2 separate regions of the Homo sapiens genome follow, and region 1 is linked to region 2. The links come from fine-mapping of genetic effects on gene expression. A gene starts in region 2. The other region holds a variant in brackets. All regions are shown on one strand. Distances are from middle to middle.

Region 1 (5,364 bases), 73 kb after region 2:
ATTTTGCAAGGCCTAGCATCCTCTTACAGAACATTAGACACTTCCATGATGGTGGTTGGTTATCTTGAGCCCCACTCTCCCAGTCTGTCAAGTTTTCTTTTTTTTCTTTTTTTTTTTTTTTGAGACAGAGTCTCACTCTGTCACCCAGGCTGGAGTGCAGTGGCGTGATCTCAGCTCACTGCAACCTCCACTTCCCAGGTTCAAGCGATTTTCCTGCCTCAGCCTCCCGAGTAGCTGGGATTACAGGCAAGCGTCACCACACCTGGCTAATTTTTGTGTTTTTAGTAGAGACAGGGTTTCACCATGTTGACCATGCTGGTCTTGGAACTCCTGACCTTAAGTGATCCTCCCACCTCGGCCTCCCAAAGTGCTGGGATTACAAGCGTGAGCCACCGCGCTCGGCCTCCGGTCTGTCAAATTAGCATGGAATTTACTATTTCTTCCTCTTGTGATTGGTGCCTTAGTGAAGGAATGTGTATTGAGCTCTCAGTGCAGGGCAGGGGTTAAAACATGCCCACAATAAAAGGTGCCTGTTGTTATCACCACCACCCTTTATTACAGTGATTTTTGTAAACTACTCCTTAGGCTACCTCATCTGTGAAATGGATGTGGCGGGACTCCCATCTGTCAACAGGGTGTAGAGTGGCTCCAGGGAATACAGGAAAGGCCCTTCTTTTTTTTTTTTTTTTTTTTTTTTTTTTTTTTGAAACAGAGTCACTCTGTCACCCAGGCTGGAGTGCAGTGACGCAATCTTGGCTCACTGCAACCTCCGCCTCCCGGGTTCAAGCTATTCTTCTGCCTCAGCCTCCTGAGTAGCTGGAACTACAGGTGCCCGCTACCACACCCAGCTAATTTTGGTATTTTTAATAGAGACAGGTTTTCACCATATTGGCCAAGCTGGTCTTGAACCCCTTACCTCGTGATCCTCCTGCCTCAGCCTCCCAAAGTGCTGGGATTACAGGCATGAGCCACCACACCCAGCTGAAAGGCCCTTCTTTTTTTTTTTTTTCTTTTTTTTTTTTTGAGATTGGGTCTCATTTTATCACCTATGCTGGAGTGCAGTGGCACCATCATGGATCACTGCCACCTCAAATTCCTGGTTTCAAGCCATCCTCTCACCTCAGCCTCCTGAGTAGCTGGGACTGCAGGCACTGACCACCATGCCTGGCTAATTTTAAAATTTTTTGTAGGCTGGGCGCGGTGGCTCATGCCTGTAATCCCAGCACTTTGGGAGACCGAGGAGGGTGGATCACCTGAGGTCAGGAGTTTGAGACCAGCCTGACCAACATGTCAAAACCCCATCTCTACTAAAAATACAAAATTAGCCAAACGCAGTAGTGGGTGCCTGTAATCCCAGCTACTCAGGAGGCTGAGGCAGGAGAATCGTTTGAACCCAGGAGGCGGAGGTTGCAGTGAGCCAAGACCACACCATTGCACTCCAGCCTGGGCAACAAGAGCCAAACTCAGTCTCAAAAAACAAAACAAAAAAATCTGTAGAGATGAGGTCTGACCATCTTGCCCAGGTTGGTCTCGAACTCCTGGGCTCAAGCGATCCTCCCAACTTAGCCTCCCAAAGTGCTGGGACTACAGGTGTGAGCCACCACGCCTGGCCAGGAAAGGCCCTTCTGACAGGACGCTGGTTGGGCTGGTCCTTGCTGTGGGCCTCACTCCCCTCTCCCTTATCCATAGGCCTGAGGGAAGACATGCTGGAGACCCTGGTTCCCAAGGCAGAGGGTGACCGTGTGATGGTGGTGCTGGGCCCACAGACTGGAAGGGTGAGTCTCAGACCTGGCAGTAGAGGTTTGTGGGTCGTTCAGGGCCTGTCCCAGGGTCTAGGCTTGCCTTGCTGATTCCACTTCACCTCTGTTCCAGGTGGGACATTTGCTGAGCCGGGACAGAGCACGGAGCCGGGCTTTGGTGCAACTGCCAAGAGAAAATCAGGTGGTGGAGCTTCACTACGATGCCATCTGCCAGTACATGGGCCCTAGTGACACAGATGATGACTGACCCATGGGACTCCTCCCATCCCCCAGGCTGGTACCAGTTCTGTACCATATGAGAAAGTTGCCTTCAGAAGGTGGGAAGATCATTGTTCCATCCTCTACTTCTGGTGCAGTCCTGGGACAAGGACAAGGGAAAGGGATGGGTGAACCAGTAGGGAAGCTAGAAACAAACCCAATATTTACCAAAATTTAGGGTATAATAAAAACCATTTCAAGTACTTAATAGAAAGATGAAATCATAAGTGGTATGATGAGCTGCGAGTTAAGGTGGGAACTGAGT[T/C]GACTGAGGTGGGAACCATTTCACTTTTCAGCCTTGCTTTTCTGCTCAGGGTACAGGACAAGTTAAAGGACTCATTTGATTGTGAGCTCACTCTTGGAATATAGATACTATAAGCTTGGGCACAGTGGTGCATGCCTGTAATCCTAGCACTTTAGGAGGCTGAGGTGGATGGATCGCTTGAGCCCAGGAGTTCAAGATCAGCCTGGCCAACAAGGTGAAACCCTGTCTCTACTAAAAGTATAAAAATACAAAAAATTACCGAGGTATGGTGGTGCACGCCTATAATCCTAGCTACTCAGGAGGCTGAGGCAAGAGAATCGCTTGAACCCAGGAGGCAGAGGTTGCTGTGAGCCCAGATTGCGCCACTGCACTCCAGCCCAGGGGACAGAGTTAGACTCTGTCTCAAAAAAAAAAAAAAAAATCTTTAGATGCTGTGGAATCTGAAATACTGTATCTCTGAACAACTTTCTGAGCAAGAACTCTAGCAACTAGCAGCAGAGTATGCTTTCACTCTCAGTTTAGAGCAGGACCCCAGAGAATATGCTGAGCCTGGGGTCTTCCTCTGTTGCCCAGACTGGAGTGCAGTGGTGCAATCATAGCTCACAGCAGCATTGATCTCCTGGGCTCAAGCGATCTTCCCGTCTCAGCCTCCCAAAGTGCTGGGATTATAGGCACTGGAATGAGCCACCGTGCCTGGTCTCTGGCTTGTATTTTGTTAATCGTAGGGAGGATGTTCCCAACTTCTCATGTCCAGTAGTCCATTTCCTATGCTTTATGCACTTCACTCTGTCAAGGAGGCCTCCTCCTTTCTCCAATCATAATAAACCAGCCTTGGTAGCACCTTTGAGAAGGGCTAAAGCTCCCCAGGGAATGGCACTGGGGCTCTGTCTCTGCCTGTAACACAACATAACCTGGCCATTTCAGACACCCTCCATCTCCTCCCCGTGCCACAATGCTAAAGCAGATATCTCATCAGCTTCAGATTTCCTGGAATTCATCTTTCTCCTAAGCCTACGCTTGAAAATGGGGCCCAAAGTTCTTGAATATGGCCCTTTGTCCAGAACACCTAGCTCCAGCCAAAGCGCCTGGTCTCCCTTGACAGGCCACTGGGACTTTTTCTGCTTTACCTTGAAAGGAGCCCTGCTGATCCCCATTTTGAGGACAGGGCTCCTTACATTCAGGGAAGTGTGGACAATATAAGGAGGCCTTCCCAATATGCCCTTTGTTCACTGTGCACAAACAAAGCCTTGTATCTGAAGACACTTTGAATCTGTGCAGTGTTCTCTCAGCTTGCTGCCTGGCACCTGCCTGCTGCCAAAGTTGCTCTTGCGGCAGTGGTTACTGCAGCAACGGCTTCTGTGAGCCCGAGAATTCTCTACAGGCCCCTCACAAGCTGGGGACTGTGACCTGTACAATTTGTCCAGACTGGCTTTTTTCACATCACAGGGATTGAGCAAGAGGTAGATTAAAAGGCATCTGCCTCTTCTGCCAAGCCCCCAGAAGTTTCCCTGGCAGGGGTCTGCTTCTGTTAAAAATTGTCCAGATGCCAAGCCTTGAATTTGTAGCAGCAGACTCAGGAAGCAGTTTCTTTGCCTTTCAGAGAGGAGTCAATTATTGAGGTGCTGTGGGTTGCTGTCTGGGCTGTGTTCAGTGGCAGATATGGACAGGTCAGCTCTTCTTTTAAAAAATTTTTTTTAAATAATTTTTTATTTTAAATATAAGAGAGACAAGGTCTCACTATATTGCTCAGGCTGGTCTTGAACTCCTGGGCTCAAGTGATCTTCCCATCTTGGCCTTCCAAAGTGCTGGGATTATAGGCATGAGCCACCACTCCTGGCCTCAGCTCTTTTTTTTTTTTTTTTTTTTTTTTTTTTGAGATGGAGTCTTGCTCTGTCGCCCAGGCTGGAATGCAGTGGCGTGATCTTGGCTCACTGCAACCTCCACCTCCCAGTTTCAAGTGATTCTCCTGCCTCAGCCTCCTTAGTAGCTGGGATTACAGGCGCATGCCACCATGCCCGGCTAATTTTTGTATTTTTAGTAGAGACGGGGTTTCACAGTGTTGGTCAGGCTGATCTCAAACTCCTGACCTCGTGATCTGCCCACCTCGGCCTCCCAAAGTGCTGGGTTTACAGACATGAGCCACCATGCCCAGCCTCAGCTCTCTTTTCTAACATTCCTTCCTCAGTCAAGGGAATGCTCCCCTCTACTCCCACACTGAGGCCACCTCTTCATCTCCATGTCTGCAGCACCACGCAGAGGGATGAAGTATCCAACAGCTTCTAAAGCTATCTAAGTGGGGGCGGGTCCTCACCAAGTCCCCTATCACACCAATTCATTCAACAAACATCTCTTGAGCTCCTACTGAATGCCAGGTACCATCCTGCATGCTAGGGGAACCGTATGGAGTAAATCACTTAATATCAAGACCCTACTATATGCCAGGCAGCATCCTGGGTACCGAGTATGGAGCTACAAACAAAACAAACATCCTTGCCCTTGTGGGGCTGACACTCCACTGGGGCTGAGACAGTGAGCAATAAGCAGAAGTAAGTGATGGAAGATGTTATAAGAAGCTGAGAACCATGGGGGAAAGGGGCAGTATTAATAGGATGGCCACAGAAAGCCTTAGAGAGAAGGTGACATTAAGCAACGGTATTAAGGAAGTAAGGGATGGTCATGCAGCTATCTGGGGAAAGCGGTCTAGACAGGGGAAATGAAGTGCAAAGGCCCTGTGGTAGCACTGTTGCTAGCATGTGTGAGGAACAGCCGGGAGGCTGGTGTGGCTGCAGGGGAGTAAGTGAGGGAGAAGGTGGTAGGAGGTCAGGTCAGGGAGATCCTGTAGTGCTGTAAGGTCAGTCCACTGGAACTACTATGGCTTTTGTTCTGACTGAAGTGGAAATCATGAGAAGCCTCCATATAGCCACTGCTAAAGACTGCCAGTTGACAACTCCCCACTTGCCATACACCCCCCACCATGTGCACACAGAACCACTCTAAATACATTTGTTCCTCTGGTGCTTTGGTCAATCTAGCTGATTTCCATTGTTGGGAACACAGATTTTCCCATTAGATGCCCAGCAA
Region 2 (5,364 bases):
GGACAGGGAGGGAACAGACCTCGGCTGTGTGGGGAGGGTGGGCGTGACTTCAGACTCTCTCCTCTCTCTCCCTCCACTCCTCCCAACTCTGGCCTTGGTTCCTCCAGCAATGCCTGCCTGAACAAAGGCCGTTAGGGAAATCCAACTCCAGGGTTAAAGAAAGGCAGAGATTGGGGGGGCTTGGGGTAGAGAGGACAGTTTAGGACCCAAGGTGGTCTTGGAGAGGAGGTGTGGAGTGGAGGGGTCAGCAGGGGGGTTGGGTTCCAGACAGAGTGGATCTGGAGTCTGAAGGAGAGGAGTGCGCTAGAGCATTCTGGGGTGGGGCTTGGAAGGGCGCTGAGGGCAGGGTTCTAGAAGGGGCGAGGCTTTAAGCGAGGCAGAATGGTGGGCTCCAGAGTAGGTGGGTCTTGGATTGGTACCAGAGCCTATGGAAAGGGTGTGGCTTGGAACATTTGGGAGACTGAGCTTGATTCTAAAGGGGACAGATCTTGAGCAAGGCAAGAAGTGGGATTCAGGAATGGGCCAAGCCAGGGTTCCAGACAGGGTGGGGCTTAGAATGGGGCTTCCATGGTGGTTTCAGAAAGGGCAGCCCCTCCCCATGGTGCAGTGAAGAAAATGTTTTACAATGGCTGGGTTTGGGCAGTGGAGAGGGGACTTGGATAGGAGCTTCCAGATGGGTTTTGTTAGGGGTGGGGGAGAATGGCTCTGGCTACGACTTGGGACGGAAGTGGCCTGAGAAGAGTCGAGTGATATGGCTTGTAGGGTGAGGCGTGGGATCCAGAGAGAAGCACCCCACCACACACACCCTTCCCCACTCCCGTGATGAAACAGCTAGGTTAATAGGAGGACAGAACCAACGGGTCTGTGGGACTGGCCCACCCCTCTTCCCCCTTCCCCTGCGCCCTCCCTCCCTCCACACCTCCACCCGTCCTGGGGTGGTTGGAGGCCTGGTCTGGAGCCCCTATCCTGCACCCTCTGCTATGTCTGTGATGTCAGTAGTGCCTGTGATCGTGTGTTGCCATTTTGTCTGGCTGTGGCCCCTCCTTCTCCCCTCCAGACCCCTACCCTTTCCCAAACCCTTCGGTATTGTTCAAAGAACCCCCCTCCCCAAGGAAGAACAAATATGATTCTCCTCTCCCAAATAAACTCCTTAACCACCTAGTCTACCCGGCTCTGATTTCTCAGTGTGTCTTTTTCGGGCGCCGGGGAGGAGGTTGGCCGGGGGAGAAAGGAGGGAGAGGTGGTGAGAACAAGCTCCACCCGGACCCACCGACCGCAGTTCAGCTTGCTGCACCATTTCAGGCCCCTTCAAAAGTGTTAGGCAGAGCAGCATCCTCTGGGAAGCCTCTCCTGCCAATCACTCTGTCACTCTCTGAGTAGCCCTGCTCACCCTCCCACTACTGGCCACCAAATGCCCGGTCTTTCTAGGAGTTGGTTCTAATTCTGGTCCCTTAGCCAAGCCTCTTCCGAGCCCCTGTGGAACCCTCTCCTCAAATCCCCAAGGGGTCCGAATAGGAGGAAACCTCACATTGCCTGACCCCATCCCTAATCTTCAGACCCTACTGTCTCTCCTTTCCCTGCCTCCGCCCAGGCTGGAGAAATGGGAGACAGGTTAGGCAAGGAGGGGAGGTGGGGCGCCGGGGTGACTCCTTAGTTCATTAGTTATTCTCTTTTACCTCTCCACTCCACGGGAAGTGACAGGGACATGTGTAATGGGGGGCGGGGAGAGGTCCCCGGGGCCCGCGATGAAGGGCCTGGCCGCTGCAGTCTCCGTGCATAGAGACCCGGGCCGAGTTCTGACTGAGGCCATGGGACCCCCTCCCCCCAGCCCGGAGGCACAGCCAAGCCTGAGAGCGTGAAGGAGAGGCTCCCCGCCCTGGAACTGAGCTGGGGAAGGGGATAACTGGAGAGAGAAAAATGTGGGTGGGGGAGGGAAGGCTTTAAGATCTACTTCTCAAGACTTGGGGTGGGGGGACGGGGCTGGACAGCTAGGCTTATAAGGATGAGGGGAGAGAGGGGACGAGGGCTTTGGAACCTGGCCTCGCTGAGAGGGGAATGAGAAGGGAGGAGTGCGTATAAGATCTAGCTCTCTGGTGGCTAGGGCCAGGTTCCCAGGTTCCCAGCGAGCACCAGCTGGGGCTGCGGGTGAGGTTGGGGCCCATTGTTGCAGCATTCATCGGGGAGACCCTCGGAACCTCACCAGTGGGGAGGAGCCAAGAGGTGTCTTTAACCCCTCTCCCAAATAAGCATCCGAAATAAATCGACACAAAACGTCAACACAAGCACCCTAGCGCGCCACCCCTCTCAGTCCAGTTGGCCACCTCTGAGTCTCCCCATCCTCCACTACAGAACCTTCAAGCCCCAGGTCCCGTGAGAGGCCACGTGGCACGCCGGGATTCTGGGGGTCGTGCCTTGTGACGCCCCGCACCGGCCCGGAGCGGGAGGGCAGAGGCCTTTCCCGCGGGGCACTCCGGGCTACGTGCAGTTCACCTCTAGGCAGGGGGCGCCCTGGCAGCGGAGAGACCACATGCCCGGGGGCGGGCCCTGCGGGGCGCGCTCCTCCCACGAGGGTGTCAGGTTTACGGAACCGAGTTCCCAGGCCGGACGCGCGGTGGCCTGACGGTCGCAAGGATTACATTCGCCTGACCCGGCCCGGCTTGACCCTGCCCGGGCGCGCCATGTTCGCGCGTGGGTCCCGGAGGCGCCGCTCCGGGCGTGCGGTGAGCGGGAGTCAGGGCAGCGGTGGGGGTCGGGGGTAAACTGAGGCCCAGGCAAGGGGGCAATGGATAGGCATAGCGAATAGGTGCCCCACAGAGGATCTGGGAATCCCATCCCCTGCATTCCCAGACCTGGGGCTGGGGCTGCTGGAGGCGAATGGATGGAGGAAGGTGTAGATCTGGTGGCCCAAACCCCCTAATCACCTCTCCACACACTTTCATCAGCACTCCTGGGACCTGGTGGGGACCCCTCTCTTATGAATTGTGGGAGGGAATCCTGAGGGCCAGAGAACTGGGTCTTGAAGCCTTAGGTTGAGCAGGAACCTCCTGAGCTGCTGCTTTTTTTTTTTTTTTTTTTTTTTGAGACTGAATCTCTGTCACCCAGGCTGGAGTGCAGTGGCGCTATCTCCGCTCACTGCAACCTCCGCCTCCTGGGTTCAAGCGATTCTCCTGCTTCAGCCTCCCATGTACCTGGGATTACAGACGCCCGCCACCGCGCCCGCCTAATTTTTGTATTTTTAGTAGAGACAAGGTTTCACCATGTTGGCCAGGCTGGTCTCGAACTCCTGACCTCAGGTGATCCGCCCACCTCGGCCTCCCAAAGTGCTGGGATTATAGGCGTGAGCCACCGAGCCTGGCCGACCTCCTCAGCTTCTAAAGGACACAGTACCTTGGAGGAATGTGCACGGAGGGATGGAGTCCTACACTCCTGGGATGCCGAAATGCTGAGAGTCAAGAGACTGGGATTTGGGGGGACAAGGCTTCCAGGGTTCCGCCTGAGCAAGGGAGTTTTTGACTTCTTAGATAGGAGGTTCTTTCACTTCCTTTGGAGTGGGTCTCTGACCTGGGAATGTGGGGTCTGGGTTTGATGGTCCGGAGAAGGAATAAATAGCCCTAGGATGGGATGGGTAAAGGCCAAGGTTTCTTGGGATGGGGGTTTCTGAATGGAGCAGGGGCCTCCTGAGATCCTGGGGAGGGTCCCCAGTTCCTTGGGTATCAGGGCATGAGGCCAGGGTTTAGGGGAGGAGCTCCTGAGCTTCTGAAGAGAGGGGCAGGGTTCACGTGGGGATCTCAAGGAAGAATGCGGTCTCGTCTCCTACCCTGTGGAACTGGAGTGCTGCTGGCGGCGTAGATGGAGAGGGAACCGGGATGAGGCCGGGGAGAGGATGCCCAGAGTAGGGGTTCTGTGCTCTAGTGGGGAGAGTACAATGAATTATAGGGGAGGTGCTTGAGCCCTGGAAGGATCTAAGGCTGGTGGGAGGTGTCTGAGGCTAGGGGCGGACGGGGAGGGGGGTCCGAGGCCAGCCTAGGAAGGGGAATTCCCTGAAAAGGGGACATATAAGGAGGTGGCTCCAACTGCCCCGCCTCTGCCTCGGTTGTGTCCCGCTCCCCCGCACTCTGGGCGCTGTCCCAGCCTGCCCAGCGCTGCCCAGGTAAGACAGGCCCCAGCGTGCGGTCGCGGGCAATGAAGTGGAGGGGCGGGCGTTGACTTCTCCTTCCCTGCTTCCGCGCCTCACCCGGCCCTGCATCTGCCCCCGCCCACTGCAGCCTCCAGAGGCAGAGGACCCAGACCGGGGCCAGCCCTGCAACTCCTGTAGGGAGCAGTGCCCTGGCTTCCTGCTCCACGGCTGGAGGTAAGTGGCGCCCCTAAAGGGCCTCGCCTTTGTCAGAGCTCCGCCTTCGGGGGGAAATCCAGGAGCCTTACGCCACGCCCCTACGCTTGAGCTCCGCCTACAGAGGGATCTCAGTTGGGAAAAGAGCCTCAGGCTCAGATTCAGAGCCCCGCCCCCTGACTCATTCCCCAAAGTCCTTTCCCAGGAGAGCTCCACCCACTACGCAGCCCCGCCCCCAGAAGTGTTCTCCCGTAGCCGCGGAGTCGCATCCCTAGGGAGATTCTTCGTCTCTAACTCTGAGCGCCGCCCTCTGGCCTCCAGCACCCCTCTTAGACTCAGACCTACTCTCCCAGGCCCAGCGTCCTATCCTCCTGCTGGAGCCCTGCACCCAATAAACAGAGCCTACAGCCCCCAGACTCAGGCCCTACCCACAGGCTCAGAGCCCACAAGTTCAGAGCCTCACCACAGGTTAGATGCCTGTGTCTAGTGAAAGTTCCCCCACAAAGCATCCCACTCCCCACGACCTGTCCTCTGGCTCACAGCCCAGCCACACCCTGGCTCATAGGCCCACCTCCTGCAGCCCTGCCCCCAGGCCCAGATCCCTGTCCCTGCTCACAGACCTTTGGTGGTGATAATCTGTATGTCCCCGCTCCTCCATTGGACCTGGGCTGCCGAGGGGTTCGGGTGGGCAACTCCTTAGTAATTGACCCCCATCCCGGCCCCCTCAGAAAGATCTGCCAGCATTGCAAATGCCCGCGGGAGGAGCATGCAGTGCACGCGGTGCCTGTGGACCTGGAACGCATCATGTGTCGGCTAATCTCGGACTTCCAGCGCCACTCCATCTCCGACGACGACTCAGGCTGTGCATCGGAGGAGTATGCCTGGGTGCCCCCAGGCCTTAAGCCGGAGCAGGTGACCAGAGGCCAGCCCTCCACTCTTGCTGTCCAGTGGGTGCACACTAATGCTCACACACACACACACACACTCAGGTGGGAACCTATTTCTGGGGCTACGCTAGAGTGTGCAGTCAGACC

Evidence for each region. PIP is the estimated chance that this variant, and not a neighbour inherited with it, causes the effect. A credible set is the group of variants that fine-mapping cannot tell apart.
Region 1: its variant is the best candidate, but not a certain one, in a credible set for the expression of PRICKLE3 in whole blood (TOPMed, PIP 0.90).

Annotation. Positions count from the first base shown.
Region 1 is chrX:49,110,264-49,115,627 of GRCh38, reverse strand. GPKOW (G-patch domain and KOW motifs) reads left to right here. Exons shown (of 11, transcript NM_015698.6): 10 at 1,690-1,775; 11 at 1,873-2,221. The coding sequence ends at 2,007. Among named protein-coding and RNA genes, the nearest start is that of GPKOW, 11 kb to the left of the region's middle. The variant T/C (reference allele first, on the strand shown) is at 2,284.
Region 2 is chrX:49,183,612-49,188,975 of GRCh38, reverse strand. It overlaps PRICKLE3 (prickle planar cell polarity protein 3), which reads left to right and starts at 2,603. Exons shown (of 9, transcript NM_006150.5): 1 at 2,603-2,720; 2 at 4,266-4,351; 3 at 5,059-5,242. The coding sequence starts at 2,679. It overlaps SYP (synaptophysin), which reads left to right. Exons shown (of 7, transcript NM_003179.3): 7 at 1-1,161. RefSeq lists silencers at 2,481-2,610, 4,382-4,595 and cis regulatory regions at 2,304-2,844, 4,204-4,704.